Homo sapiens: one gene and its partner. The protein of the gene in region 2 interacts with the protein of the main gene of each other region in a biochemical or structural test. Each region holds a gene or a part of one and is shown on either strand. Other genes may lie near its edges.

The links. The genes of interacting proteins can lie anywhere in the genome.
Region 1: the proteins of MELK (region 2) and BCL2L14 form a complex in vitro, tested with the Homo sapiens proteins (one study listed by IntAct).

Annotation. Positions count from the first base shown.
Region 1 is NC_000012.12:12,069,193-12,072,938, reverse strand, and holds the start of BCL2L14 (apoptosis facilitator Bcl-2-like protein 14), read right to left. Parts: upstream 2,001-3,746; 5' UTR 1,802-2,000; intron 1,537-1,801; exon of another isoform or gene 1,284-1,536; intron 1-1,283. UniProt on the Homo sapiens protein: Plays a role in apoptosis.
Region 2 is NC_000009.12:36,570,524-36,574,269, forward strand, and holds the start of MELK (maternal embryonic leucine zipper kinase), read left to right. Parts: upstream 1-2,371; 5' UTR 2,372-2,484; exon of another isoform or gene 2,485-2,675; intron 2,676-3,746. UniProt on the Homo sapiens protein: Serine/threonine-protein kinase involved in various processes such as cell cycle regulation, self-renewal of stem cells, apoptosis and splicing regulation. Has a broad substrate specificity; phosphorylates BCL2L14, CDC25B, MAP3K5/ASK1 and ZNF622.

The sequences.
Region 1 (3,746 bases), on a different chromosome or scaffold from region 2:
CTCCAGCCTGGGTGGCAGAGGGAGACACTCTCTTAAGAAACAAAAATAAAGAAAAAAAAAAACCCACCCACACAAACACAGAGTTTTTGTTTCCTCTAATCCTTGTTATAAATTACTTGATTGTTCAGTGTATAGCTAAGTCTTACTTTCAAGCAGCAGCGATCGAGTATTATCACAGGTTAGATCCCTTCTGCTTTCAGCTCTTCCTACAGAAATTGTACTCTATACAAGAAGCCCAACTTTGGGGTTTATGGAAAGGTAAACCATAAGTTTTATGCTTATGTTGACAGAAGCCCTGGGTGGGGCCTCTGAATGCTGGTTCAGAACCTGGAGGGGAGATTTCCGTTCCTGGGTGAGACCTGTGAGGCTTATTCTAATTCAGGGCCGCAGAGGACACAACCCTGCTTCACTGCCCTATGTTTACCTTCCTGATCCTTACCTGTAACAAACCTGCACTCTCAGAAGCAAGGCTACAGAGGTTCTTTTCTTGGTCTCTTTCCCTCCCCGAGGTGGCCGGGGTCCTCCACGTCTGGCCCCAGCGTGTCCTCTGGGAACACTGGCTGCCTGGCCGGGTGTGCTGAGAGGCCGGCTGGGAAGGCCACACTGCAACGAACACCTACATTCCAGGTATTGGCAGACGCACTGTCGCACGGTTCTCGCTCTGCGGACTCACTTGTTGAGGTGAGATTTCACTTCCCTCCCGGTGGGTGGCAGCTAACGGATAAGCACACAGAGGAAACTGCAGCAAGCACCTCGTGTTTCCACACACAGAGGCGGCCACCACCCAGTGCCCCAGTTACGCTGGACACCTGGTTCGCTGTGCCTCTGCCTGTCCCAGCGGTGAGGGGTGTGGAGAATCCCTTGGTGGCTGTCCCAGCAGAAGAGCTGACTTCATGTGCTCAGGACACACAGTTGAGGCCTGAGTGGATCTCGTGGGCACTGACACTCATCCCCACGGAGCCTCCCACAGCACATCCTAAGCTCAGCTTGGTTCTGTTGTCCGGAGCCTCCCCTTCTGCCCCTCTCCTCTCCCCCTCACTTCAGACCTCTCAGGCTCTTCGTGCCTTCTGCCTGGACTGTTCTTTAATACTAAAGGTGAAATGAGGAATGAGAGAAAGTGCCTTAACTTCCCACAATAGAAGCTGAATGCTAGACAGAGCCTCAGGTCATATTCACCAAACAGAAGGTCCGAGGCTCTGATTGTGGAAAGAAGGGGACAGGGAGCTCAGGGAGGAGGGAGCTTTCTAGAGGGGAGAGAGGAGAGAGAAGGGTCTTCCATTTACCTGTGCCTTAGACTCAAGGAATTCTCTGGGGGTCTAGACCTCCTGCGGATGAGTGCCCAAGTTCCCACGAGGTACTCAGGACTCTGATCTCAAACCAGGAATTCCCATGCTGGCTTCAGTCCCTGAATCCTCGTGGTCTCCAGCTTGGGCAGTGGTGTCCCTGGCCACGGAATGGCTGTCATGTCATTGCATACCTCCCCAGATACATAAGCAGAGAAGACTGAGTAACGTCACATACCTCAACCAGTAATGTGTTCTTAACTGAATGTCCCAAACCCTTTGTAGCAAAAGAGAAATGAAAGAGAAACCTAAATAACCTTTCTTCGTCTTTCCTGGAAACCCCGCTAAACTAGATTCTCAATGTCATTTTGTGTCCTGAGACTTACATGATAAGAACTTTGTAATAAACCCAGTAAAGAGCTCCCTGAATTAGACTGCCTCATTTGGCAAACAGCTAAAGACCAGGCTGTGTCCTCCTGCAAAGGCTGAGGATGAAGACTGGTGCCTCCTGGTGTTACCTGGTCTGGAAGCTGTCTGTGATTTCTTCTGCTTCAGGTCAGGTGGCAGTAAGGATATTTCTATACCTGAGTCTCTCTCCACGAAACTTAAGAGGAAACTTTCAACAGGTCTTCTTGGCTTGTCGTTTGGAAAGACTCAGGTAGTTTAGAGCCCCAGGCTCTAAACTTTCTTCAGGTTTAGGACTCAGCCTGAAAAGAGGCTTAAAGAAGGAGAACCACTTCCTTATTACGCCCTGCCCCTGGCTTTTTAATTGAAGGAGGGGCTGATCTTTGCCCGTGTAATTTGACTCTAAAAGGAATTCTATATCCATTACCTAGCACTCTTCCTGCCCTTTGGGATAACTAGGTGGGTGTTCTGATACTTCTTTACTATCCTTATCAGTTGTTAGTTAAACAAATGTTTACTGACCGCCTAACATGGTACAGGTACTGTACACATATTTAATCTTTTTTTTTTTTTTGAGACAGAGTTTCACTCTGTTGCCCAGGCTGGAGTGCAGTGGTGCGATCTTGGCGCACTGCAACCTCCGCCTCCTGGGTTCAAGCGATTCTCATATCTCAGCCTCCTGAGTTTCTGGGATTACAGGCTTGCACCAGCACGCCTGGCTAATTTTTGTATTTTTAGTAGAGACAGGGGTTTCACCATGTTGGTCTCGAACTCCTGGCCTCAGGTGGTCTGCCCTCCTCGGCCTCCCAAAGTGCTGGGATTACAGGCGTAAGCCACTGCGCCCGGCCAACATATTTAATCTTAACAACATTGAGAGGCAGGCGTTACGATTCCCATTGCACAGATGAGGAAACTGAGGCTCAGAGAGGTGAAGTATCTTGCTACGGATCCCTATCAGTTGAGCTGAGATCCAAATCGTGCTCTTTCTGGCTTTACACTCTATCATGTCACCTCTCCTATGTGACTCAAAGATTGTGTTCAAGTGGAACCACTGGAAAAGTGTTCAAAAAGGAATCTAAGCACAGCCATAGTAAAAACCACAAAAACCCACTGAAAGGCCAAATGTCATAACTTTAGAGATGGAATTCCCTATTATATGAAATAGGAAACAGTTACATCTGATTTTATGCTCTTTCCAGAGTCTTAAGTGAAATAGATATATATGGCCATGCTTGAGATCATAAACCCTGGACCGCTGGTCAAACTGTGACGATGAAGGAAGTGTGAATAGTGAAAGGGGAATTAATGCTATTTTCGTAAAAGTGGGGAAGAATGGGTCATTTAAATATTAGGCAAACAGATCCACAAGAGACAAACAGATGGTAGTTATGGGAAAGTTAGATATTTAGTAACTCGAGGTGAATTTTCACCAGCAAACTAATATTTTTTGCACCAGTGAGGTCAATGTAGAGGGTATTAAAGAAATACTAAGAATGATTTTTCTCTTTTTATAAAAACTTGCCACCTTTTTTTTTTTTTTTTTGAGACGGAGTCTTGCTCTGTCGCCCAGGCTGGAGTGCAGTGGTGCGATCTTGGCTCACTGCAAGCTCCACCTCCTGGGTTCACGCCATTCTCCTGCCTCAGCCTCCCAAGTAGCTGGGACTACAGGCGCCCGCCACCAAGCCTGGATAATTTTTTTTTTTTTTTGTATTTTTAGTAGAGACGGGGTTTCACCGTGTTAGCCAGGATGGCCTCGATCTCCTGACCTCCCGATCTGCCCGCCTCCACCTCCCAAAGTGCTGGGATTACAGGCGTGAGCCACCGCGCCTGGCCAAAAACTTGCAACCTTTTTTTGGGGGGAGACGATGAGATATATTCACTGGAAACAATTCAAGAATAAACAGGGTCTGGCTCAGTGTCTCAAGCCTGCAAGCCCAGCATTTTGGGATGCTGAGGTGAGAGGATCACTCTGAAGCCAGGAGGATCACTTGAAGACCAGCCTGGACAACACAGTGATGAGACAAGAGTTCTTCAGGACTGGTTTGCAAGGTACAGGTC
Region 2 (3,746 bases):
GGCTCACGCCTGTAATCCCAGCACTTTGGGAGGCCAAGGCAGGCGGATCATGAGGTCAGGAGATCAAGACCATCCTGGCTAACATGGTGAAACCCCATCTCTACTAAAAATACAAAAAAATTAGCCGGGCATGGTGGTGGGCGCCTGTAGTCCCAGCTACTCAGGAGGCTGAGGCAGGAGAATGGCGTGAACCCAGGAGGCGGAGCTTGCAGTGAGCCGAGACCACGCCACTGCACTCCAGCCTGGGTGACAGAGTGAGACTCCATCTCCAAAAAAAAAAAAAAGAACATTTATGATTAATGGGAAGAGGTCACCATATCAACATTAACAGGAGTTGGGAAGAAATTAATTCCAACCCTCATGGATGACTTTGAGGGGTTCAAGACTTCACTCGTGGAAGTAACTGCAGATTTGGTGGAAACAGCAAGAGAACTAGAATTGGAAGTGAAGCCTGAATATGTGACTGAACTGCTGCAATCTCATGATCCAACTTGAATAGATGGGGAGTTTCTTCTTACGGATGAGCAAAGAGAGAGTGCTTTCTTGAGATGGAAGCTCCTCTTGGTGAAGATGCTGTGATCATTGCTGAAATAACAACAAAAGATTTAGAATATTCCATAAACTTTGTTGATAAGGCAGTGGCAAGATTTCAGAGAACTAACTTTGAAGGAAGTCCTGCTGTGGATGAAATGGTATCACACAGCATCACATGCTACAGAGAAATCTTTCATGAAAGGAAGTGTCCATCGATGCAGCATTGTTGTTTTATTTTAGGAAATTGCCACAGCCATCCCAACGTTTAGCAACCACCACCCTGATCAATCAGCAGCATGGAGGCAAGACCCTCCACCAGCAAAAAGATTATGATTTGCTGAAGATTCAGATGACCATGTTAAATTAAGTTTAGCATAAAGCTGCCTCCTTATGCATTTTAAGTTCAGACTAACAATTTATTTCTTTCTCTCTCTCCCTTTCTCTCCCTTCCTTTCCTTTCCCTTCCCTTCCCTTCCCCTCCCTTCCCCTCCCTTCCCCTTCCCTTCCCCTTCTCTTCCTTTCTTTCTTTTCTCTCTCTCTTTCTCTCTTTCTCTTTTTTTGAGACGGAGTCTTGCTCTGTTGCCCAGCCTGGAGTGCAGTGGCACGATCTCTACTCACTGCAACCTCTGCCTCCCAGCAGAGAGAATCAAGAGATTCTCCTGCCTCTACCTCCTGAGTAGCTGGGATTATAGGCTCGCGCCACCAAGCCCGGCTAATTTTTTGTATTTTTAGTAGAGACAGGGTTTCATCATGTTGGTCAGGCTGGTCTCGAACTCCTGACCCCAAATGATCTGCCCCCGCCCCCCCACCAAAGTGCTGGGATTATAGATGTGAGCCTTTGCACCTGGCCTAACAGTTTCTCCATACATAGTGAATTGTAGACAACTACAATTGTAAATGTGTAAAGAGACTGTAACCTTGTAACAAGTAGCGAGTCTCAGTCAATCACAGCAGCGGAGTTTTGGCCAATCACAGGTGGCCAACTGTTTAAACAGTGCTCAAAATAGTCAGAGGTTGAGTTGCAACCAATCCAGCTGTTTCCATACTTGACTGCAATTTCTGTAAGTCATTTTCCTTTTTCTGTCCATAAATGTTATTTGAACATATGGCAGCCCGAATCACTCTGAACCTATTTTGGTTCCAGGGATTACTGGATTTTGGACTCATTCTTTGGTCAATTCAACTCTGTAAAGTTTAATTTGTCTAAAGATTTTCTGGGCCGGATACAGTGGCTCACGCCTGTAATCCCAGCACTTTGGGAGGCTGAGGCGGGAGGATCGCTTGAGCCCAGGAGTTCGAGACCAGCCTGGCCAACATAGCGAGATCCCGTCTCTACCCACAAATAATTTAGCCAGGCGTGGTGGCGCGTGCCTGTAGTCTCAGCTACTGGGGTTCTTATTCCTCGTGGCAACACATTTTGGAGAGGGGGAGGTATTCCTGTCTTTGCTGGGTGGGAGAACGGCCAGTGGGCAAGGGAGGACGAAAATGAGAACTGTGACTGCCAGAGGGCACGTCAATTTTAGGAAGAGAACGTAAGAAAGTTGGGTTCTGTGGAGACTTGGCATATCCACGCCACCTGGAAAATCATCACGTGCCCTCCGGGGCAAGACCAAGGCCTCAAGTCACCCCTCGCAGCCCAGTGGACCTCCCGGCCATCCCTTTCACGGCTCCACAGCGACCGCGAGCCGTTGCCCCGGTGAGAACCCCCCGGCACTGTGCGCGCCCCCGCCTGCCGTGCGCGTCCGCTTCCCTGGGATCCGGCGCCGCGCGCGCCCCCGCCGCGTCCCCGCCCCTTCCGGCCCGGGAGATTTGATTCCCTTGGCGGGCGGAAGCGGCCACAACCCGGCGATCGAAAAGATTCTTAGGAACGCCGTACCAGCCGCGTCTCTCAGGACAGCAGGCCCCTGTCCTTCTGTCGGGCGCCGCTCAGCCGTGCCCTCCGCCCCTCAGGTCAGTTCTCCCGCCTGCCCGCCGCAGTCGCAGTTGATGGCTGGGGTCTGGGCTGTGCGGGGCGCAGCGGCCCAAACCCAGTTTGCTCCTGGCTCTCGGGAGACTGGAGGATTTCATCGGAGCCCCGCGCTTTACCAGCCCTGTTCCCTGGATAAGATATTTGACCTTTCCGACCCGCGGTTTTCTTCTCCGTAAGTGGGGATAATGACCGTGTCTACTTAACAGGGTTATTGAAGAGGTGTTCAGGCTAAGCGTTTGCCACCTAGGAGGCTGCGATAGACGTGAATTCCCATTTCCCGTTTCCAGTTTCCGTGACTCTTCCCCGCGAAAAAAGTTGACAGAAGGGTTTCGAGTTTTTTCTGTTTGTACAACTCAGTTTACTGGGGCAGTGCAATAAAAAAGGAGATGTGTTATCACTACCTTTTCAGAGTCCAAATCCATCCTCTCCTATCATCTCCCCAGAGTAGTGGCTTCAGAGGCTCACACTAAAAGGGGAATTTTTTTTCTTTTTCTTCAAGACGGAGTTTCGCTCTTGTTGCCCAGGCTGGAGTGCAATGGCGCGATCTCGGCTCACCGCAACCTCCGCCTCCCAAGTTCAAGCGATTCTTCTGCCTCAGCCTCCCGAGTAGCTGAGCTTACAGACATCCGCCACCACGCCCGGCTCATTTTTTGTATTTTTAGTAGAGACGGGGTTTCACCACGTTGGCCAGGCTGGTCTCCAGCTCGTGTCCTCAGGTGATCCGCCCGCCTTGGCCTCCCAGAGTGCTGGGATTACAGGCGTGAGCCACCACGCCCGGCCTAAAAGGGGAATTTTCACCGAATGCTGTATCAGTAATAGGAGCAGCAGGATTGCTCCCACCAAGAAACCTGGTGTAGGGTTGTGGGAGCTGGAAAGGGTAGACTCAGGGAAGGCTGCCCAAGAGAGGAATCAGGTCCCTAGCACTTAGGACGGGTAATTACCTTTGGTATTTCTCCTTTGTTAGTGGAATGAGGTGAGTATCAGGAGCCTGGATTGTTGTTTAGAGGCCAGTGTTCCTAACTTTGGTTTAAATTTTGGTTTCTGTTTCCCATGGAGTCTGGCTAGAAAATCAGAAAAATCAGAAAAGCCCTTACTGGGCCTTCGTGGGCTTGTTTCTCCCAAGGGTCTGTCCTTTCTGTGTAACTACTGTGGACCAACTAGATGGGCAGATCAATCCCAATGAGTGCCTCATTGTTGGTGCTCCCAGAAGCCTTTGCAAGGGAGCAGGGCAGGATGCTAATTA